Linked DNA regions of Homo sapiens. The protein of the gene in region 2 purifies or fractionates together with the protein of the main gene of each other region. This does not show direct contact. Each region holds a gene or a part of one and is shown on either strand. Other genes may lie near its edges.

Region 1 (12,190 bases), on a different chromosome or scaffold from region 2:
TGCCATTATATCAAGTCATACCTTTTAAAACACTGTTAGTGTTCCCTGTAGATAAGGTAGCAGGTATTTTTGCCAATGACATCACACTGGTTATAACTGGTGTTGTATCTGTCCTTGCAGAAGGGAGCTCCGTCACAGCAGTTTTTGCTTTAGAAATATTTACTGATTAAAATAAAAAGTTAAGATCTGGAATAAGCAAAAGGGTCTCTCTCTCATACACACTCACACTCACACACAAAACCCTGTTTAGTAACTAGGTTTTCAAGAAGCAATATAAATATCTGATTCTGTATCATGTTAGGTTGGGTGACTCTGGTCAGATTAGTGTTCTTTAGGACTTAAAGAGAGTCCAATTCTATAAAGTCATAAACCTCAAATGACATTTAACAGGTAAAAATACAGGTATTGGATACAGTGGCACCAGCCTGTAATCCCAGCTACTTGGGAGGCTGAAACAGGGGGATCACTTAAGCCCAGGAGTTCAAGACCAACCTGGGCAACATAGCAAAACCTAGTCTCAAAAAAAAAAAAAAAAAAAAAAGACAGGTATTAGCTTCAGGATTCACTGGACTGTTCTATTAGTGACTATTAAAACTCCTAGACCTAAGCATGCATCAGATAAAAACTTAACATGACAATTTTTATAAATAAGTTAATGAGGGAGCTGTCCAACCCCATAACACTAGTTTTCTTAACCCATATTATAAAATGAATATTCTACTACCAGCCTGACTGGTTCTGGGGAATGGAGGGCTAACACGAAAGATTAGCACAAGGCATTTATAATTAAGGTAATCATTAATAAGACTGCAGAGGTAGGCAATGGCCAGACTGCAAAGAGCCAAAGCTCTGTCAATCAGGTAGCACTCCAGGCTTTGAACAGAGAACATAATAGCAAGTGGCTTTTTTTTCTGAGAGAGAGAATATCGTTCTGTAGCCCAGGCTGGAGTGCCATGGCATGATCTCGGCTCACTGTAACCTCCATCTCTTGGGTTCCAGTAATTCTCGTGCCTCAGCCTCCTGAGCAGCTGAGCTTACAGGCACACACCACCACACTTGGCTAATTTTTGTATTTTTAGTAGAGATGGGGTTTCACCATGTTTACCAGTCTGGTCTCGAACTCCTGGCCTCAAGTAATTTGCCCATCTCAGCCTTCCAAAGTGCTGGGATTACAGGTGCGAGCTACTGCACCTGGCTACCAAATGTTTTTAATCTAATACTTAGAAAGAAATACTTAGGAGAGCTACTTTATGAATATATCATGGATCTATCTACTCACCTGGATATTCTGACCATATTAGCTGTCCTACTTGCAAAATTATTTTATTCTTAGCTAGGATAAACTTTGCTACCCATGAAGAACTGTTCCATTTTATATTTTCTGAGATAATTAACGTGTTGTTCTTTTCTCCTTGCCTATAAGCAAGCTCTGAAACAAATTTTACACTAGTCACAGCAACTATATTAACTATACTCTCCCTTTGTTTGCCCTGATTTTCTGTTTTTATTTCTGGTTTATTAACTAAATAGTATATATCCCTAGTTTAAGTTATTTATGTACAGATACATTCAATCAAAAAGCAATCAAATCTAAGTTTCCTATAAAAATTAGTGCATATACATTATTGGCCTTTTGGTGTGCTTGACTATCAGAGCAAAAAGTATTAGAATTACTTTTCCCTCAAGGGGAAATCTTAAAGACTTCTTAAAGAAAAATTTAAGGAAATTCAGGCTATTTGAATCCAATGAAATTTTGTTTTTATTATATTATTTATAACTGTATATGCTGATAGTGTCCTAGCACTGACATAAAAATCCCATTAGCTAAGTTTAATTTTACCTTTATTTTGTGGAAGACAGTCATTCATAATTTGCTGATGACAAAACTCCAAGACACAAAATAGGTTACAGAAATGTTTAATGTTGCCTCGCCACTTTATGGACTCGCTTAGTTTACCCTGTCGTTTACAACCATCACACTTGGCCATCTGAAAAAGAAATGTTAGACAAGATAGGCTTAAAACTATAAAATAATGAAAAGATAACATTAATCATAAAAAGAGGGACTACGAAAACAGGATATATGAGTCAGTTGAGACTACAAAATGTAAGGTTCTTACCTTAAAATACTGATTTTATTTAATTATTTGTTTTATATAGATGCCCTAAATCAAGATAATATAAAAACTGTGGCCAGGCACGGTAATTGTGGGATCACGCCTGTAATCCCAGCATTTTAGGAGGCCGAGGTGGGCGGATCATGAGGTCAGGAGTTCAAGACCAGCCTGACCAACATGGTGAAACCCCGTATCTACTAAAGTACAAAAATTAGCCAGGTGTGGTGGCGCACGCCTGTAATCCCAGCTACTTAGAAGGCTGAGGTAAGATAATCGCTTGAATCCAGGAGGCAGAGGTTGCAGTGAGCCGAGATCGCGTCACTGCACTCCAGCCTGGGTGACAGAGTAAGACTCTGTCTCAATAGAAAAAAAAAAAAATGCTCTTCTGTTTTCAAAATTACCAATAAGGGAATCTATCTAAAGATAGGTTCATAACTGGGCATGGTGGTGCCCACCTCTCCTGGTTACTCGGGAGGCTGAGGCAGGAGAATCACTTGAACCCAGGAGGCAGAGGCTACAGGGAGCCAACATCGCCCACTGATCACGCCACTGCACACCAGCCTGAGCAATAGAACAAGATTCTGTCTGGCTGGGGGATGGGGGGTGGGCAGGTGGGATGGGGGAAGAAAAGATACACAATGAAAAAAGTAAGTAAAAAAAAAATAAAGATAGGTTCAACTTCTAAAAAATTAAGCAGCAGCTTACAGTAGTTGATATAATATGGGCTTTGGAGTCATAAAGATTTTGATTCATTCAGCAAATATTTAATTAGACATCCTTTGTCTTAAGCACTGTGATTGGCCCTAATTATATAATCATGAAAAATATATTACCCTCCCCCAACAATAAAATTCTATTTTTTTAGAGGTAGAAAAACAAACAGTGATTTACCAGAGTGTTATAGATGCTGTCTTGCTGTCACCTACCAGCTTCCTCAAGAGCATATTACTTAACTTCCCTGGACCTCTCTCCTTTTCCTTATTTATAAAATGGCAGTAATATACTTACCTCTTGGGACTATGGTAAGGATTAAATGAAATGACACTTACAGAGCACCAGACATGTATTAGTGGTTCAATTAACTGTAGCTACCATTGTTAGCCTTTCAAAAAGTTAATCTTTTTAAAAATGAGGTAGGAATGGTTGCCAGCTATTGTCCTTTGACCTATGAAGTGAGACAAGGTCTAACTTCAAATTCCTCAGAGTAACCTGAATGAGAGAGCCACTTCAGGCAACATTATGTGAAGTTCTAACCTGAAAGAAGTCAAATAAGGGCAAAGTGCCTCATAAGAAGGCAAAAATAAAAGGAACATATCCAACCAACAACAAAGTCTGCAGAAATCCTATACTTTTTATCCCAAAGATTTCCTGTTTATATTCAATTGAATTTTTCTATTATAGCCCATAACTTATTTTATCCAGTGCTAAACACCAAATTTTTCTTCACATAATTTGAATACATTTTAAATAAAAACAATTTGCACTGATTTCAGAAAGCCAAAAAAAGTATATTATCACATTTACCTGATAAAACAGAACTGTAAATTTGGACATACAATCTTCACAACAAAACTCTTCTAACTTGCCCTCCAATCGATTTTCTACCAAATTTGGGGATGTCTGTGAACAGTAGCTGCACATCTTACAGTAGTTTCCCCATCGTTCTCCAAAGTCACGGGCAGAGAGGAATTTGCAAACTGAGGATCAGAGGGATGAAAGGAAGAAAAATCAAATTTACATTAACTGAGGAGGTATAATAAGTTTCTGTGGTCTTAGATATGAAACTTTAAGCTAATTTCTAATACACAATTATTTGCCTCTAGATTACAGGACAGTCTCTATATTCACAAACCAAACTCATACCACCTTTTATTTTATTTTATTTTTTGAGACAGAGTCTCACTCGTTTTGCCCAGGCTGGAGTGCAGTGGCACAATCTCAGCTCACTGCAACCTCTGCCTCCCAGGTTCAAACGATTCTCCTGCCTCAGCCTCCTGAGTAGAGCAGCTGGGATTACAGGTACCTGCCACCACACCCAGCTAATTTTTGTATTTTTAGTAGAGATGGCATTTCGCCATGTTGGCCAGGCTGGTCTCAAACTCCTGACCTCAGGTGATCTGGCTCGCCTTGGCCTCCCAAAGTGCTGGGAATACAGGCGTGAGCCACTGCGCCCTGCCACCACCTTTTAAATATACTCTAAATATTAGGCCATTTATATTCAGAAACATTAGAGGTATAAAAGTTTTTTAAGCCAAGAAGCAGCAACTGTTTTAAGTTCCTCTTCGCAAATGAGTGCAAGAACAAAAAGATCTCTGATGTCATAGCTAAACTTATGAAGAGATTTTCTTTATTAATACCACTGATGTAATCATTTTTACAGTTTTTTATTGCAATTACTGCAACATTTAAAAAGACTGACTTTCAGCCAGGCACAGTCGCTCACGCCTATAATCCCAGCACTTTGGGAGGCCGAGGCAGGAGTACCACCTGAGCTCAGGAGTTCAAGACCAGCCTGGGAAACATGGTGAAACCCCCCGTCTCTACCAAAAATAAAAAAAATTAGCCAGGCATGGTGGCACGCTCCTGTAGCTTCAGCTACTTGGGAGGCTGAAGTGGGAGGATCCCTTAAACCGGGGAGGCAGAGACTGCAATAAGCCAAGATCATGCCACCACACTCCAGCCTGAGTGACAGGGCAAGACCTTGTCTCAAAAAAATAAACAAACAAAAATAATAAATAAAAAGATTGACTTTAAAGTGAATTAACTATAAACACAATTCAAAAAAACCTTTTTTTTTTTGGAGACAAGAGTTTCGCTCGTCGCCCAGGCTGCAGTGCAATGGCATGATCTCAGCTCACTGCAACCTCTGCCTCTGAGGTTCATGCAATTCTCCTGCCTCAGGCTCCCAAGTAGCTGGGATTACAGGCGTGCGGCACCATGCCCGGCTAATTTTGTATAGAGACGGTGTTTTTTAACAGAGATGGGGTTTCACCATGTTGGTCAGGCTGGTCTTGAACTCCCAACCTCAAGTGATCCACCCACCTCAGCCTCCCAAAATGCTGGGATTACAGGCGTGAGCCTCCATGCCCGGCCTCCAAAATACTTCTAATTACACCTTGTAAGACAAAAAGAATGTGAAAACTAATCATGGCTTAATTGCCCAAGTCGTCATGAATTATAACAACCCATGCTCTGTGAATAAAACAACTTTGTCTTTACCTTCACTACAGAATGGCTTATCAACCCCTGAGAATCGCACAGTCTCCTTTATAATTTTCTGCAGTTTACAGTAGTCACACATTGCCACAACTTTATTTTTCTTCTTGTATTCATCAGAGCAATTCTTGCCACAAAACAGAAACATTTTACCCTGCAGAGAAACAACAGTCCATTAAGAGCCAACTAAACAGTTGCTTTATCTTTAAGAACTCCTTTTCATGTCAAAGCAAATTGAGTGATCAAAATTGAAAACACAAAAGTGTTTCTACTGGATGAGTTTATATACAATCCCTTTCATGATCTCTCTTTACCTTGTAAAAAAGAAGTTCTGGTTTTGTGGCAAATAGATGGTTACAGTGCTGACACTTGAGTTTAACAACTGTATGGGTTAAAGCAACTTGCTGGGATTGTTCAGCAAGAGGTTGGAGGCTGGCTGCAGCAGAGCCACGGATGGAGCTGGGGGAAACGGCAGAGGTGTTACCTCCTCCTATTGACACTGCTGACCTGGAGGAGGGCGGGCTTACAACCACTTGGCCCTGAGACAGGGGCACCGCCGAAGAGTTTGTTCCTTTTGGCTTGCTAAATACATTCTGAATGAAAACAAATAAGGTAAAGATTTTATCAACTGAGAAATAAGATAACTTTGTACTTTTCATTTCCTCATTTTAATAAATCAAGTCTCCCACAAACATTTTTTAAAATTTTCTATCTCACAGAAAGAGTTTAAATGGTATATTTCCAGAATAAAAGGACTGAGAAATACAACATTAAAAGGTCAAGGACTGGAATTCAGGCTTTCCTGACAAAGACCTCCAGTATATGCCTCTAATAAATTAGAGCAGGCCTCTCCTTCCCCCTAAAACTTCCCCCTACCTGCACTCCCATCATCAACCAGCTTCTGATGGCTACTACGACACAATAGCTACCAGCAGTCTCTTTCTCCCTAATGCCAGGGATACTACATCAGGCATGTTCCTACCCTGGAGATTACTAAACTCTACTCTTTGTGTATGTATTGCAGAGAGGGAGGAGAAAATGGGACAAGTGGATGCTTACAATTCCATGCCAGGAGTCACTGTGTTTCTGACACAGGATGAGAGGAAGGGGTATGTGAATCCCATCAGGCTACTGTTCTTCACCATACCACCTACCCAAACCACAATCCTAGCTTCCATCTTTTTGAAGGGGAGAGACCCAAGGGAGAAAGTGGGAGGGAATGACAGTTTAGGCTAGGATCCTAAATAAAGAAGAAACTGCTGAGACCCAATATCTGGGTTCAGATATTTTGTAGAAATGACCTGGTTGGGCCCCTGGATGAAACAAATTTTTTTCTTTTTAATTCAAATTTAAACTTTCATAAGAACAGGCCTTCAGCAGTTAACACTGTGCCACAGATCGATGCCTAACAGAACCACATGCATAATGTGCTACCTTAGATCATACCTGGAAAGCAACCACACAACTGGAGCTGCAGAAGCTGTATATAGTTCCATTTGACATGGCTAGGTGATACTGAGGGATTGCTGAGGTTTTACAACTATGACATGAAACCTGGACACCTTGGTGACAAAAAATTAAAAACAATGATTAAGTTATACCAATGAACAAACAATACAAAAATGTATTGGGAGAATGAAAAAATTAAATAATCAATAATATACCAAAAAAATCAAGGAACTTTATAAAAATCTGAAATCTAACCACAACTAACCTCTATTAAGTCCCACTTACACAAAAACTAACTTGGAAATTTTAAGTGTTTTTTCTTTCCTCTCACATATGAAATTATAAAATACTGTATATATTGCAACCAAGAAAATCGGGGAAAAACTATTTTCACATAAAAGTCAGTTATTTAAAAGTCAGTCTTGGGTTTTTATTTAACTAAATAGATAAATTTAGCTTGTAACAAAATCAGAGAAAAGCAGTTACGTTTTTCTTCAATAGTTATTAAATCTATAAATTTATCAAATTTAAACATTACCTGAAGAAGTAACAGTCTTAACTCTGTAAGCAGATAAGCAATTAATAGAGCAGAAAAGCTCTGTTTTTCCTGAATCATTTGTAGTCTCAATCATTTCAGCTGAGGGCCTCAATGACTTCCCCAGGGCATATGGAGGAATTTGGGCAGAATTCTATTAAAATAAAATAACATTAGATACCTAGTACAAACATACATATTTACATATTGTTCAAAAAAGTAAAAAGAAAAGCTACCTACAACCACGGTCCTTGGTTGAAATATTTGAGCATGATGATGAAACCACACTATTGGGAGGTGGGAAAATAAGTTCTTCCAGACAACAATAAAATAGAAACTGAAGAAAATTAGTAACTATTCAGATAGAGATCTTAGCAAACAAAACACATGAATTCAAACACAAGTAATGAATTAAATAGTCATTACATACTTTTTAATCACCAATAACCAGAGAAGACCAGCTAACCCATGAACCAAAGGGTCATTCTTGGTATAGTCTTGTACATCAATCTAGAAGAGTCTACCACCTTTAAGGTTACTTAATTTGTGAGATTCTTTAGCAGGAGATAGAAATGATATTTAATGTATATTAATAGAGATCCTACACAACTACCTATTTTTCAAGCTGAGTTTCATAATAAAATCTGCTTATAAGTTTATTCATGTTTTAAGAAATAATAAAAATAGCTACCATTTACATAACCAATATTATAACTTACTGAATGCTTACCATGAGTCAGGCCCCAGGCTAAGAAATTTATATATAGTGTATCACAGAAACCTTTCAACAACAGAGTGAGGCGCTCTCAAAAATTACATTAACAAAAAGTTTAAATTAACAGATGAGCAGAAGAAGTAGGAAATTAAACTCATTTCATCAGGCTCCAAAGTTCAGGCTCCTAACCACTACACTATGCTGTCAGTGATACATTATAAGGTCTCTCAATATGAAAAGAAATTGTAGGAAAATATAAATTGTGAGGTTTCACTACATAATCTTCCTAGTAAAAAGACAGAGTACAATACTAGTAACAAAATTAGAAATGGAACTGATTTTGGGATCATATATAAAATAACATGGATTCTTTTCCTGTGAAAGTAGAACCAGACTGCCAAAAATGGCAAATCTTAAAAAAAGAGATTCTTTTCAGTGATGAATGTCCATATGTCCATTACCAACTGCTCAAAGGAAGCAACAAATCAAACTTGCTAACTGAAAAAAAGTTTAATTATCATTTACAAGATACATCTTTGTTTTTTTTTTTTGTTTGTTTGTTTGTTTTTGAGACAGTCTTGCTCTGTCACCCAGGCTGGACTGCAGTGGCACAATCTCAGCTCACTGCAACCTCCACCTCCCGGGTTCAAGCAATTCTCCTGCCTCAGCCTCCTGAGTAGCTGGGATTACAGGCGCCCGCCACCACGCCCAGCTAATTTTTGTATTTTCAGTACAGACAGGGTTTCACCATGTTGGTCAGGCTGGTCTCGAACCCCTGACCTCGTGATCCACCCGCCTTGACCTCCCAAAGTGCTGGGATTACAGGCGTGAGCCACCGCGCCGGCCTTACAAGATACTTCTTTAAGAAAAACTTTTTAAAACCACAAATTAGTAATAATTAAATTGACACAAGGTGATAATATTTAGTAACCGGCTTAATCCATTATTCATTACAATAAATAAAATTACTTGAAGTATTCTCATGAGACAGTGTTGACCAAATAATTACAATTCATTCCCAAACACATTTTGAAATGAAAAAGACAAGCTTTGTTTAGATTCACTGATTTTATCATCTTAACTCTTGCTTATGGTTTATTTATAATATGGTTTTCTTGCTATCAATACATCACAAAATATTTCATGCTCACAGAAAATCATGAAATTACATTTATGAGGCCGAGGTGTGGTTGCTCATGCCTGTAATCCCGGCACTTTGGGAGGCTGAGGCGAGTGGATGGCTTGAGCTCAGGAGTTCAACACCGGCCTGAGCAACATGGCAAAACCCTATCTCGATTTCAAAAAAAGAAAAGAAATCACATTTGTAAATTCTTAGCTATGAAGGGAGCCTTAAAAAAGGGACCTATTTTACCTATATCAACTTACCACCACAATCATCCCTCACACCATCAGAATCTATCCCATTTTCTGGAAGGGAAATCACATATCAGGATGGACTAATGGGAGGAGCTCACTCTCATTTTGTAGTTCATCCCTGTGCAGCCAAATCAGAAGGAGTGGGCCTAAGTACATGCAACAAATAGATATTCATACCTGCTTGTATGCCGTGACACTTGTTGAACTAAAAACCTTCTGGGATTGGCAAGGACCAGAGCTACTATAGCAATAGCTCCCACAGTTCTCACAACAGTTCATGGTGAGGTTGTTTGTAGAGTGAAATTTTGAAAAACAGGCATCACTACAAAGACCATGTACCACATTTTGATATTTAACTTCAAATCGAGTCTAGGAAATAAACACACACATACACACACAAAATAAGCAGAGCCAGTTAAAAAAAAATCTCTTTCAGCAGAATCCCAATAAAAGTAAAATGTAACTTACATCAGCATTCTTCTGACACATACTGCACTTAGTTGAAATGCTTTTGGTATATATGGTAACAACAGGTTTTTTCTTTAGCTCATAAGATGACAAGCATGATTGGCTGCAGAAATCTTTGCTAGGATAGGAATTCTCAAAGCGAGTTGTGATCACATCCTTAGGATTTAAAATGTCTCTAAAAATAAATAACAAAGGTAAAAATGAAATGTATTCTTCACAACTGTAACTTCCTCCTCTTTGTGAGGTGAAATAACACTTACTAAGGGCAGGTACTGTATGGTAGAAAAAGGATAAGGAATCTGCAAACCTGGGTTTGATGAGTTCTGCTATTTATCAGGTGAGTGACAATGAATGATGTAATTACTATCTCAATTTCTTCATGTATAAAATGGGGCTTATAATATCTAATTCATAAATTTGTCAAGAGTGAATTATATTTAAAATATAGCCAGCCAGGGCCAGGTGCGGTGGTTCATGCATGTAATCCCATCACTTTGGGAGGCCGAGGTGGGCGGATCATGAGGTCAGGAGTTCGAGACCAGCCTGGCCAACATGGTGAAACCTCGTCTCTACTAAAAATACAAAAACTAGATGGGCGTGGTGGTGGGCGCCTGTAATCCCAGCTACTCGGGAGGCTGAGGCAGGAGAATCACTTGAACCCGGGAGGTGGAGGTTGCAGTGAGCCGAGATTGTGCCACTGCACCCCAGCCTTGGCAACAGAGCTAGACTCCATCTCAAAAAAAAAAAAAAAAAAAAATATATATATATATATATGTGGCCAGCCAGATGCTGAAGACAAAAATAGGAAGGCTTCCAGCCCCAACCAAGTTTCATCTGCTATAGCCAATGGGACCAGTGTCCATCCCACAACTCCAGACCACAAGACACTGGTTCTCTCATTAGCCAGAGGCTGCCCAAAGTAGAACTGAAATGAGACAATAAATGAATTTTTTCTTTCTTTTTTTTTTTTTTTTTTGTGAGACGGAGTCTCGCTCTGCTGCCCAGGCTGGAGTGCAGTGTCACGATCTCGGCTCACTGCAATCTCCACCTCCTGGGTTCAAGCGATCCTCCTGTCTCAGCCTCCGGTTCGAGTAGCTGGGACACCAGCACGTGCCACCATGCCAGGCTAATTTTTGTATTTTTAGTACAGACGGGGTTTCGCCATATTGGCCACGCTGGTCTCAAATTCCTGACCTCGCGATCCGCCTGCGTCAGCCTCCCAAAGTGTTGGGATTACAGGCATAAGCCACCGTGTCCAGCCAAGACAATAAATGAATGTTTAAAAATTAAAAGTGCAAGATTTTGAGAAACAAATGAGCTAACAGAAGACAAAAAATAAGCATGATATATGACAAAAGGGCTGTTAAGGCTTTGTATCAGAGGACAGATGGAAACAAGAACGAGACAGGAAGAACAAAAATAATTGGGTGGTTCTGTGAGACTCCTAGAGCCAATTTGTAAGAGCTAATTATTGCAATAAGCACAAATAGCAATACCCTGGTAAAACAGAGGTTAAGTATTGCCATTCTTCTGACAAGTATAAAAACTAAAGGAAATAGTCACTAATTATAAACACTAGTGCAGGCCACAAAGTAAATAATAATGGCAATAATATATACTACAATAAGTGTGTTGAGTAATTACTATGTGCCAAGCATTATTCTCTTTACTCAAATTACCCAATTTAAATACCACAAAAATGATGGAGTGCAGTGGCTCACCCCCATAATCCTAGCACTTTGGAAGGCCAAGGCAGAAGGATTGCTTGAGCCCAGGGAGTTCAAGACTCCAGTGAGCCATGATCATGCCACTGCACTCCAGCCTGGGCAACAGAGCAAGACCCGATCTCTATAAAAAAAATTTTTTAATTAGCAGGGCATGCTGGCTCATGCCCATGGTCTCAGTTACTCAGGATGCTGAGGTGGGAGGATTGCTTGAGCCCGGGAGGTAGAGGCTGCAGTGAGCTGGGATCACGCCACTGCACTCCAGCCTGGGTGACAGAGTGAGACCGTGTCTCAAAAAAAAAAAAAAATCCCCAAACCACTATAAGGTTAAGTATTACTGTAACTGCCACTTTACAGATGAGGAAACTGAATGAGAGGTTAAATAGCTTGTCAAAGTCATATTGCTAGTAGGCAATAAAGCTGAAATACTAATCCAGGCAATCTGATTCTAGTCTATGGAATTAATTATTCCACTATCCTGCCTCCCATCCTGCACCTTTATTATACAGGTATATTCAATGGTAAACCATGAGAAAATAACAACAACAAAAATTATTTTAATTCTTTAAAACTCAACTTTAAAAATATG
Region 2 (12,621 bases):
GGATATTGATATGGTTTGGCTGTGTCCCCACCCAAACCTCATCTTGAGTTGTAGCTCCCATAATTCCCACATGTTGTGGGAAGGAACCGGTGGGAGATAATTGAATCATGGGGGCAGGTCTTTCCTGTGCTATTCTCATAATAGTGAATAAGCCTCACGAGATGTGATGGTTTTATAAGGGGAAACCCCTTGTGCTTGGTTCTCATTTTCTCTCCTGCCACCGCCATATAAGAAGTGCCTTCCACCTTCCACCATGATTGTGAGGCTTCCCCACCCACATGGAACTGTGAGTCCGTTAAATCTCTTTTTCTTTATAAATTACCCAGTCTCAGATATGTCTTTATCAGCAGCATGAAAATGGACTAATACAGATACATAATGACAAAATGGACTAAGTGCTCTGAAGAAAACAGGGATTTTATGACAGTCAGTAACTGAGATAATACACTAGGTGGGGTATCCAGGAAGGCTGGAGGGCAGAGGAGGGGAAGGCCTGCTGAGCAGAGGGAACAGTGACTACAAAGGTCCTGGTGACTGCAATGCAGAGAGTAGGAGGGAGAGTGGGTGAGATGAGGCTGGAGTGAAGGCTGAGGACAGGCTATGCACAGGGCCTTGAAGCTCTTGGTTCAAAGTTTTTGTAATTATTATTCTTCAAGATATTGTTGCACTGCCTTCTGGTCTCCACTGTTTCTGATGAGGTCAGTGGTAATTCTAATTGTTGTTCTCCTATATACGGTGTTTCAGTCTGGCTGCATTCAAGATTTTCTCTTCATCATAGTTTGACTATGATATGCCTGGATGTATTCTTTGTATTAGTTTTTCTTTCTTTCTTTTTTTAAATTGGAGACAGAGTCTCACTCTGTCATCCAGGCTGGAGTGTGGTGGCACAATCTTGGCTCACTGCAACCTCCGCCTCCTGGGTTCAAGAGATTCTCCTGCTCAGCCTCCTGAGTAGCTGGGAATACAGGCGTGCGCCACCATGCCCAGCTAATTTTTGTATTTTTAGTAAAGATGGGATTTCACCATGTTGGCCAGGCTGGTCTTGAACTTCTGACCTCAGGTGATTTGCCTGCCTCAGCCTCCCAAAGTACTGGGATTACAGGTGTGAGCCACCAGGCCCAGCCTGTATTAGTTTTTCTTGATGTTCTATGACCTTGAATCTGTAATTGTATGTCTTTCACCATATTTGGAACTCTAATTATGTTTATGTTTTATTTTTCCACAAATCTCTGACACTTTATTTTATTTATGTATTTTTTTTTTTTTTTTTGAGACAGGGTCTTGCTCTGTTACCCAGGCTGGAGTACAGTGGTGCAATCATGGCTCACTGCAGCCTCGACCTCCCAGGCTCAAGTCATCCTCACACCTCAGCCTCCTGAGTAGCTGGGACTACAGGTACATGCTACCATGCCTGGCTAATTTTAACATTTTCTTTTTTTGGTAGAGACAGGATCTCTCTATGTTGCCCAGGCTGGTCTCAAGTTCCTGGGCTCAAACCATCCTCCTACCTGAGCCTCCCAAAGTGCTAGGATTATAGGCATGAGCCATTGTACCTGGCCACACTTTATTTTTAAAATTCATTTTTTTCTGTTCTTAGATTGGATAATTTATATTGATGTATTTTTGCATTTACTAACTCTTTTCTCAGCCATGTCCATTCTGCTGTTAAGCCTAGCCATTGAGTTTGTTATTTTAGACACTGTATTTTTCAGTTCTGGAATTACCATTTGGCTTTTAAAAAATAGTTTCTATTACTCTGCAGAAATGTACTGTCTTTTCAATCTTTTTCTTCTTTTTCTTTTTCTTTTGAGATGGAGTCTCATTCTCAAATGAGACTCCAGCACTGGCTGGAGTGCAGTGGTACAATCTCGGCTCACTGCAATCTCCACCTCCCAGATTCAAGTGATTCTCCTGCCTCAGCCTCCTGTGTAGCTGGGATTAAAAGCACCTGCCACAACACCCGGCTAATTTTTGTATTTTTAGTAGACAGGGTTTCATCATGTTGACCAGGCTGGTCTTGAACTCCTGACCTCAAGTGATCCACCTGCCTCAGCCTCCCAAAGTGCTGGGATTACAGCAATCTTTATTATCATATTTTTAATTATATTATTGAGCACAGTTATACTAGCTGCTTTAAAATCCTTGAAGCTTAATTCCAGCATCAGGGTTGTCTAGGGATGAATCTCCATTGATCATCTTTTCTCTTAAGAATAAATCATGTTTCCCTCTGTATTTCAAGTAATTTTGGATAATATCCTAGCCATTGTGAGTGATCCATTGTAGAAACTGTGTTTCTCTGAAAAGTGTTGGTTTTGTTTTTGGTTTTGTTTTTTAAAGCAAGCAGTTAACCTGACCAAACCAAAACTATAATCTGTCTACCTAGAGATGGGCACAACTATTTTCAGTTCTTTTGGCCTCAACCAGGAGGTTTGGAGTCTGTCCTATGTATACATGATTCAAGATTTGCCAGATATCTGGGAAAAGATTATAGATAGATTTTAGGGCTCTGTCTCTCTGGCTCTTTCCTTTCTGGAACTTTCCCTTTTGTATTTCATTCAGTAGCTGTGCTTTTCCCAAACCCTGTCTTTGGGCTCTTCAAACCAGCAAGCCTGTGGGTTTTCCATCAGAACTATAGCTGGGAGCAGACTGGCATTTTCTTTCAGGCTTCAAGTCATTTATAAAACAAACACAGAAAAAGCCAACACCACTTTGTTCTTTCATGTGTTAACTTTCAAGTGTTATAAGCCTACTTTTGTTCACTTTTCACCTGCCTTAAGTCTCTTTTATTTAGTGTTTTGCCCAGAGTTTATAATTATTATCTGTGGGAGATTTTTTAGTAGGAAGCACTTGAACATCTTAGAAAAATCCTTAAAGCCCTTGGTGAAGAAAAGAAAGGGAAAAATGAACAAAACATATGACATGATCAATCAGATTAGCATCTTCAAAGATTACTTTAGAAGCAGTGTGGAGAGGAGACCAGAACGAATGGAGATGAGTTTGGAAATCACTGCTGAAGTCTGCATGAAACATGATGATAGCTTGGAGTAGATGGTCGCAATGGGGGTGCAGCAAAGTGCTTGGATTTCAGAGACTCCTTTAGGGGGTAACACTGATAGGACTTGCTCCATGCATAGAGTATGTGAAGTGAGAAGTAAGGTGGAGAGAGAAATATCAAGGATGACTCCTAGACTTTTGACTTGCTCAACTAGATGAGTTGGGTGCCACTCCAGAGATAGTAAACCCTGGAAAAGATTCACAAATAAAAAACCGTGTGTGTGAGATGTTCCAAAATAATACATGGACGTGTGAGATAGAGGATTACTCAGATAGCTTCAAGACTTTAGACTTAAGGGACTGGAAAAATAATGGGGCCACTGACAGAAGTAAGGATAGTGAGAATATTTCATCTTTCTTTAAATATTGAGAAGACATTTTGGAATCCAGCAGTGCCTAGGGGTCATAGAAATGCCTTGGGGGCCATGACTGGGATTGCAGTAATGTGGCTAAAGAGATAATGCTGGCCTATAAAAAACTCTGAGAAAATCCCAGAGAAATCAGTTTTATATTACTACACAGATTCAGTTACACCTTGGCTAAATAATGTCCCCTGCTTATGTGGTGCCTCAGGTCACCATAAAGTGTTTAACACAGGCGTTATTCATGTTGCCCAAACCAACTTTATCATACAGGTTTTCTTAATATTAGTAACATTATCAGTTATTAATATTATACTACTAATAGTAATGTAACTATTAAGGTATAGAGTAATTGATTGTCAATTGGATCTTTCCATGGTTTCCAAAGATGTCAGGTCATAGAAATGATGACAATTGCAGGTGGGCCATTGTTTCTCCATCACAAGACAGAGGCACTAAGCAAGGTAACTAAAAGTCACTTCAGTGGTCTCATAATGTATTCAGTTGCCTTGGAAACAGGCATCATTATTATTAGCAACCTCAGTGGTTTATGTATTATTCTTTTTTCCTATGTGTGGATTAATTTTGTATTCATGTTTCCATTGTTAATATAACCAATCTCAAATCCTGTTAAAAAAAAAAAAGGCTTAAACGAATCATTGATTTCTCACAATTGTGGAGGCAGGGAAGTTCCAAATCGAGGTGCTTGCCCATTGTAGGTCCTAGTGAGGGCTCTCTTCCTGGCCTGTGGATGGCTGTCTTCCTGCTGTGGCCTCACATGGCAGAGAGAAGCTCTCCAGTGTCTCTTCTTATAAGGACATTAATTGTATGGGACCAGGATTCCACTCTTATGACCTCATTAGCCTTAATTCTTCACTCCAAATAGAGTCACACCAGGGGTTAGGACTTCAGTGTATAAATTTCGGTGGGTGGTGTGGGGGATATAATTCAGTCCTTAATAAATGTTTTTGCCATTTTTACTGTCATTCTGTCACAAGAACACAGTGGAGTTTTCCAGAGACTACATAAGGGTGTGGTAGCAGCAGGGTGAATGCAGAAGCAGGTATGAGTAGTCAGCAATCCTCCACTAGCCAGACCTTAGAGAGACTCGCCAGGATGTAACCTTTATCACCACTCCTCTCGCTACACTTTTGTTCTTGTGGAAAATAGTTATTTCTTAATTAAAAATGTTATGCTAACAATGTAGTCCATTTCTTTTTTAAAAATAATTAAAAATTTTAAATTTCCATTACGGTAAATGTGATATAAATAGCCTACATAAACAAAAGCTGCCTGGGTGCGGTGGCTCATGCCTGTAATCCCAACACTTTGGGAGGCTGGGGCCTCCCAACACTTCAGGATCACTTGAGTCCAGGCGTTTGAGACCAGCCTGGGCAACATAGTGAGACCCCATCTCTACAAAAGCAAAACAAAACAAAACTCCCAAAGTCAGCTGGGCCTGGTGGCGTGCGTCTGTGGTCCTAGTTACTCTGGAGGCTGAGGTGGGAGGATCGCTTTAGCTCAGGAGGTCGAGGCTGCAGCGACCTCTGATGGCGCCACCGCTCTCCAGCCCGGGAGAGAGCTCAACAACAACAACAACAAACAAACAAACAAAAAACCCCGCAGAAGCTCTCTGGGCTCCTCACTTGTTTAATGGAATGAAGGAGTCCCGAGAGCCACACATTTGGGAACCACCGGTCTCGGCCATGCCCAGCGCGGGCGCACTGTTGCAACACCCCTATCCCTGGCTGCGCAGGGTTCAGCTCTCCGCAAGTACCTTCCTCGCCTTCCTACCCCCCCCAGCCCCCAGCCGCCGCCGCTCCCGCAGCCCCGGTCCCGCGCCTCCCCGCAGCCCCGGCGCCCGCCTACCCGCCAGGCAGGCGGTGGTGTCGATCCACTTGAGCAGCTGCCCCGCGCTCAGCTCGCCGCGCGCAGTGGCGTGCGCCGGCTGGATGGCTTGGCTCATGACCACCTCGCCGGGCGCCGGCCGCTCCATGGCCAGGGCGAGAGCGCTACGCCTGCGGCCCCCGACACCCCACCATGCCCGCTCCGCCCGCCCCGCCCTCCCCGCCCAGCTCCAGAGGGCACTGGCGCCGCCCGCCCGGGCCGCGAACCCCTGGCCGCCAGGTGGTGGGAGCTGCGAGTGAGGGGGCCCGCACTGTCATCCCAGGACTATCGCGAGTGGGGGAAAACCAGCGCTCTCGGGTCTCAGGAGAAGTCTGGGAAGTGCGCGGGGAGGGGGCTCCCGGGTAGACAGGTCTGGAAGGCGGCTCCCCGAGAGCCGGAGCGCGAGGAACAGCTTTTGAGATAAAAAAGCTGTTACACTTTCTAGAGCTGCTATCAGTGACTGTACAAAGCAGTCCTCATTAGGGAAACAGTGTCTCCAGAAAACCTCCAGCATCTAATGGATTGGTGGATGTCTGACTGTCAGGGGAGGCTGCTCCAGGGAGCACATTTACGATGGAGAACTGGAAACCCGGAGAAGTGGAGCAAGCAGCTGAGGTGATAGGAGCCGATAAGCGACCCGATCACCTGGCTGGAACCCAGGGCTCCTGACTGTCCGGAATAGCACGAAGAAGCCTAGCCGACTCTCACGAATTGGTGGTGCCTTTTCATCCTTATATTTTTGGCTTGCCAAGCCTCAGCATGGCGACATCAGAATGGAGATTCTGGTATTTTTCTTTCCTTTTTAAAAGATTTTTTTTAAAATGAAAGTGAAGAAATAAGGAAATGTTGACTTGATAGCTTTTAGGAGCCTCTGTGTATAGGTTTCAGGACAATCCAATCATAAATAGGAATTGCATGTTTTCACTGAGGCAAGCATGAAGTCTGACTTATATAAAAGGCATTAAAATAACTTTTAAAAGCAAACAAAAACTTGTGCATCCAAGATGGTCCCATTATGTAGCTATACACTTATTTCAATGATAACGTTATTACATCGCTTTTGGCACTCCTCCTTGGAAAATGCCTTTTTAATGACTTCTGTATTGAGAAATCATAATTTAGGAATTGATAGATTATCATATATTCACTCCATCTACCAATAACTCTGTGAGAGTCATTTATTGACCTTGGACTTGGCCATGTGGCTTGCTTAAGAATGGAATGTGGAGAGATAGCAGTGTACCACCAGTCTTGCCTTTAGAAGCACCGTGTTTCTGTTCTCAGGAACATCTGACCTCTGCCATGAGGTCAAGTAGCTGCCTATTAGCATCTGGGTACCAGACTGAATTCACGTATTGCAGAGGCATCTCAGCCAGCCGGAGGACTCACAGCCTGAAGCAGAGCAACCCAGCAGACATGAAGACTCTTGAGTGAGACATAACTACTTATTGTTGTGTGCCACTGTGATTTTGGGGGTTGTCTGTTATGCAGCAATAGCTGACAGTTACATGAGTGAACTGTATTAATATTTGGGAAGTTTATTAAATTACTGGAAATAAAGTTTGCATTTAGGCTGGGTTGTATTATTTTGGGTAAAAAGTGGTGACTAAAGTGGTGATATTGAATTATGTGTATGGTTGTATACTTGGTTTCTTATAAACTAAAGAAACTTAGGCCAGGCGCAGTGGCTCATGCCTATAATCCCAGCACTTTGGGAGGCTGAGGTTAGGTAAATTGCTTGAGCTCAGGAGTTCAAGACCAGCCTGAGCAACATGGTGAAACCCTCTCTCTACCAAAAATACAAGAATTAGTTGGGCGTGGTGGTGTGTCCCTGTGGTCCCAGCTACTCAGGAGGCTGAGGCAGGAGGATCACTTGAGCCAAAAAGGCAGAGGTTGCAGTGAGCTTGAGTCTCAAAAAAAAAAAAAAAAAAAAAGAAAAAGAAGAAGAAATTTCAAAAATGTTTACGCATAAGTGTAAGAGGATGGGTTTCCAAAATGATTTTCTTGAAGGGGACAGCATGTGTATATTTGTGTGTTTGTCTAGAGATGTTGCTTTAAAAGCAGACATGGTACACAAATTCACTGCTGTGTTTTCTTATCTTTATTATCTCCTGTTTAGATGTCTTCAGATTATGGTTTCATATCTTTTGTTGGTTTCATACTAATTTTCATTTTACTATTCTTGTGTTTTTCTGAATGGTCCCTTTCTTCCTTTTACAATGAAAATGTCATCTGCATGCATGAACATTTGTTACCTCCATTTCTCTCTGGTGTCAAAGATTTTTACTATTATGCTTGAATAAAAGGTCGAGTTTCATTTGTGTTTAGAGACATTTTTGAAGATAAGCAGAATGTGAAGCCAGCTTGATTTTAAAAGTTTGTACACAGGAGCAGGAAAGCTGATCCAAAAAAGTGTGGGAAGTTCCACAATCACTAGAATAACGAGAAAATCTTTAAAATGCTGGAGTGGGAAGGGGAACTGGACAGTCTAAACTCTTATTCTAGAGATGAGGAAATGAAGTGATTTCCTTGGGTCACATTGTAAGGTAGTGGCTGGGTTTTGTGAAAACTAAGAACAAGGAACCTGGAATATAAGTAGAGAGGTAGAAAAAAAAATGCTTTCTCCAGAAACAGAGCCTCTGACAAGAATTTGAGAGCAGACAGTTTATTTGGGAGGAAATTGCAGAAAGCACTGGTAGGGGCATCAAAGTGTAGTCCCCAGGTAAGCAGCCTCAGCCTCACCTAGGATCCTCTTAGAAATGCAGAATCTCAGGCCGGGAGTGTTGGCTCATGCTTATAATCCCAGCACTTTGGGATGCTGAGGCAGGAGGATCACTTCATCCTAGGAGTTTGAGACCAGCCTGAGTAACATAGAGAGACCTTGTCTCTATAAAAAAAAAAAAAAAATTTAAAAATTAGCCAGGAAAGGTAGCATATGCCTGTGGTCCCAGCTACTTTGGGAGGCTGAGGTGGGAGGATTGCTTGAGCCCAGGAGGTCGAGGCTGCAGTGAGCCATGATTGGGCCACTGCACTTCAGTCTGAGTGACACAGTGAGACCCTGTCTCGAAAAGAAAAGAAAAGAAAAAATTATAAATGCAGAATTTCAGGCTCCAACTCAGACCTACTGAATTAGAGTCTAAATTTTATTAAGATTCCTAGGTGATTCAGGGGCACATTACAGTTTGTGAAGAACAGCCCCAGCCATCCCTCCCACTGGCATGAACCCTGGGGTTTTTATCCTCTGACTGGCATCCTTCATTGACTAAGGGCTGGTCCCAGGAGATGAACTCCCCAGGACTTCTGCAGATTTCAGAGCAAGAGCAAGCTTTCAGCTGGAGCTTTATCTCAGTAGGACAGGAAGACGCTGTCAGCTTGGACTAGGACTCAGAATGGTGAGTGCCGTGGCCATGTGGGCAAGGCAGAGAGCCAAAATCCTTACTGTCCTGAACAGCAGAGGCAGCCGGGAGCCTTTCCATTGTGGGAGATATGTCCCAGACAGAGGGTTTGCTAGTTCAAGTACTTCATACAGAGATGAACTTGATTAGCCATCAAACTCTCTCTCTACATTTGGTATGTTTTAAAAGGTGTCAGGTCAGTGTTTCCAAATTCAAATACAAATTTATAAGGATGTGGTTCAAAGTTTAAACTCAGAGCCCCTAAGCAAAAATTCCAGGATGGGTTTTCTCAGCTTTTGGCCGCCAACTTCTTGACTGGAGGGTCTCCTGTCCTTCTCTGCCCCTGAACCCTGCTCTAGGGATGGCAGTGACTTTGGGGAATGGGTTTTCTGCTTGGACTGTCCCTCTTAGCACCTGGAGCCTCAAGATAACCTTGCTCCTGTTTGTCCCTGCACTTCCGGTGGCCCCTTCTTTCTGTCAAGCATTAGGTGTAGAACCTAACAGCCACCACATTTGTGTGGAGTACAGAGCTTTATTTTGTTTGAACAAAAGCCATGTGTATAGAATCTAATTTTTCTGCTTCCCCAGATTTGTTTGGCCCCACTTTCATCCCAGGCCATTGATTACTGCTCAGTGGAGTCCCTTTGCGGTCACCACCACTGCCTGTGAATATGTTGGAGCACATTGTTTTCAAATACTGCATCCCACTTGCTCATGGTATACAATTCTTTCTATATATTGCAGATTTCCATTTACTAATATTTTAATAAGAATTTCTATGTCTGTATTTTTGGGACATGTTGGTCTGCAGTTTTCTTTCTTTAAAACTGTCTTTGTCTGGTTTTGGTGTCAGGGTTCATAAAATGAATCGGGAAATGTTCCCCCACCATGTATTCTGAAAAAGACTGTATATATTTGGTGTTCTTTACACTTTTGGTAGAATTCTCCAGTGAAACTATCTGGGCCCTGAAGATTTTTTTTGGAAGTTTAAAATTTTTTTTTTTTTTTTTTTTTTTTGAGACGGAGTCTCACAGTGGCGCACAGGCTGGGGTGCAATGGCACGATCTCTGTTCCCTGCAACCTCTGCCTCCCAGGTTCAAGCAATTCTCCTGCCTCAGCCTCCTGAGTAGTTGGGATTACAGGTGTCCGCCACCACACCCAGCTAATTTTTTGTATTTTTAGTAGACGGGGTTTCACTATGTTGCCGGGTGGGTCTCGAATGCCTGACCTCATGATCCTCCCGCCTCAGCCTCCCAAAGTGCTGGGATTACAGGTGTGAGCCACCACACCCGGCCATTAATTCGATTTTTGAAACAGTTACAGGGGTACTCAAATTATTTCGTATGGGGTGAGCTGTGGTAGCTTGTTTTTAAAAGAATTACTCCTTTTTATCTCAGAAAAGGTGATTTGCCAAAGACTGAGATTGAGCTAGAGCCTGATCTGGTGCTTTTTCTTCCATCTGGCAGAGCCCTCCCCTCTCTGGCTGGCTCTTAAAGCTGCCCCTTCCTGCCTCCCTGGCTTTCCCCAGATCTCTCCTGCCCACACCATTTCCTGCTTTCTAAGCCAGCTTTCAGCTACTTCCCCTTAGGGGAGTGGTTCTCAAGATTTTCCAGCTCAACCCATACATACTGAATCCGAAATTCCAGGGGTGGGGCCAGTAACTTTTTTTTTTTTGACATGGAGTCTCGCTCTGTTGGCCAGGCTGAAGTGCAATGGCATAGTCTCGGCTCACTGCAACCTCCGCCACCTGGGTTCAAGCGATTCTCCTGCCTCAGCCTCCTGAGTAGCTGGGATTACAGGCACATGCCACCATGCCATTCTAATTTTTGTATTTTTAGTAGAGACGGGGTTTCATCATGTTGGTCAGGCTGGTCTCGAACTCCTGACATTGTGATCCACCCGCCTCGGCCTCCCAAAGTGCTGGGATTACAGGCGTGAGCCACCACACCCAGCCAATAACCTGTTTTTAACAATTTTTCCATGTGCTTCTGCTGCACAGTATGTTAAAAACTACTGCCGTATGGTGTCTTTCTTTAAAAGAGTAAAGCTTACAGTGCAGTCCTTCCCAAGAACATCTTCAGTTTAACAGGGGGCCTTTTCAGACCTGTAAAGGAATTTGTGATGCGGGGAAAAGGGTCACAGTCTTGGGTCTGGAGAGATGTGTTTGTGTCTGAGTTAGACCCTATCCTTGCTAGTGTTGAACTCGAATGTATCACTCAATTTACACATTAGTTTGTTTTTTTTTTTTTTTAACAAAATAGGGATGCTTTCCCTATTTCATAAAGTTGTGATTAGATCATAGAAAGTATTATCAAATGGAATCATGATAACTGCTATTTATGGAGGGTCAAGTCTCACAACAACCTTGCAAGTAATATTCTCTTTAAAGAGCTGGGAAATCAAGCCCAGATAATTCATAAGCACTTACAACATGCCACACATCCCTATGAAGTATACAAACTACTACAATTCCCATTTTATAGATGAGGAAACTGATGGAACTTGCCCAAGACCACATAACTAGGAAGTAGTAGAGTCAGGATTCAAATCTAGAAAGTCTGGCTCTTGTTCAGCTGGGCTAGGAAGTTGATGCATGTGGTGCAGAGGACACATGGGAAGTGGGAGAGATGGGAGTGGTGCCCAGTTCTAGCTCCAAAGGCCATGCTGGTGCCTCTATTTCAAGTCACCTTCATTCATTCAATCAGCACATACTTATTGAGTGCCTACTTTGTCGCAAGGACTGTTCTGGTCATTGGATAAATGCTGGTGAGTAAAATAGATTGGTCCTTAGAACTTTATAGAATTCATAGTTTAAAGATAACATGGAAATGGCTACAAAATAATGTTGACTATTCTAATGAGGATGAAATGGAATGATAAGCACATAGGGAAACTGGCTGATGGCTGTGTGCAGCTCCTGAAATTATAACCTGCTGTTGACCGTCTACTAGACTTAAGATCAGTGCTGAGTTGGGTCTGTTTTTTAAAACAATCACCAACTTACAGAAAATTTGGAAGTCCTGTACAAAGAACATATTTTTCTCTGATCCATTTGAAAGTAAGTTGCCAACCTGATGCTTAGCCCCAAGTACTTTAGTGTGAATTTCCTATAAACAGGACTTTCTCCTACTGAACCATAACACACCATCAAAATGAGGAAGTTGACATGAATCCTCAGAGCCTGCTATGGTTTGAATGTATGTGTCCCTCCAAAATTCATCTGTTGAAACCTAAGACCCAATGTGACAGTTTTAAGATGTGGGACCTTTTGGGAAGTGATAAGTCCCGATGGCTCTGCCCACATGAATGTATTAGTGAGTGCCCTTGTAACAGGGCTGGAGAGTACTATCTACGTAGGCCCTCTTTGCCTTTTTTTTTTTTTTTTCCTTTCTCTCGAGGTCACCATGTGAGGACTCAGTGTTGTGGAGCCACTAGAAGCTGAAAGGGGCAGGGAAGGAAATCTCCCCTAGAGCTTTTGGGGATTACGGCCCTGCCAACACCTTGAGTTCTGACATCTGGGCTCTGGAACTGTGGGAGAATCAATTTGTCTTCAGCCCCGCAGTTTGTGGCAATTTGTTACAGCAGCTGTAGGAAATGAACACACCAGCCACCTAGAAAACCACCAGTTCAGATGGGTGGGTCAGATTCCAACTCCACCTGAAGGGATAATTCTAGTTTTCTCCCTCCTCATATTTTCAACTCCGTTTTCTGACAAGAAACCTGGCTTCTGTGATGCTTAATAGATTGACTTCTTTGGTCAGTCCCCCATATGACAGCGACCTCCCTGCTCCTCTGCCACCCTTGGCCCTGAGGGGGCTCCCTCCCGACCTCCCCACTGGACTCAGGGCAGTGTCCTGCTCTGGGCACACACCCATATCCTCTGTCTCACCTAATGGCTAGACACACATTACTCGGAGGGGAAG

Evidence for each region.
Region 1: the proteins of ACOT12 (region 2) and ZMYM6 purify together in Homo sapiens (affinity purification with mass spectrometry; 2 studies listed by BioGRID and IntAct, with this or other methods). This does not show direct contact.

The regions. Positions count from the first base shown.
Region 1 is NC_000001.11:35,005,111-35,017,300, forward strand, and holds part of ZMYM6 (zinc finger MYM-type protein 6), read right to left. Parts: intron 10,053-12,190; coding exon 9,878-10,052; intron 9,779-9,877; coding exon 9,587-9,778; intron 7,472-9,586; coding exon 7,321-7,471; intron 6,896-7,320; coding exon 6,780-6,895; intron 5,927-6,779; coding exon 5,648-5,926; intron 5,488-5,647; coding exon 5,337-5,487; intron 3,815-5,336; coding exon 3,642-3,814; intron 1,989-3,641; coding exon 1,841-1,988; intron 163-1,840; coding exon 22-162; intron 1-21. UniProt on the Homo sapiens protein: Plays a role in the regulation of cell morphology and cytoskeletal organization.
Region 2 is NC_000005.10:81,388,703-81,401,323, forward strand, and holds the start of ACOT12 (acetyl-coenzyme A thioesterase), read right to left. Parts: upstream 5,433-12,621; 5' UTR 5,413-5,432; coding exon 5,286-5,412; intron 1-5,285. UniProt on the Homo sapiens protein: Catalyzes the hydrolysis of acyl-CoAs into free fatty acids and coenzyme A (CoASH), regulating their respective intracellular levels. Preferentially hydrolyzes acetyl-CoA.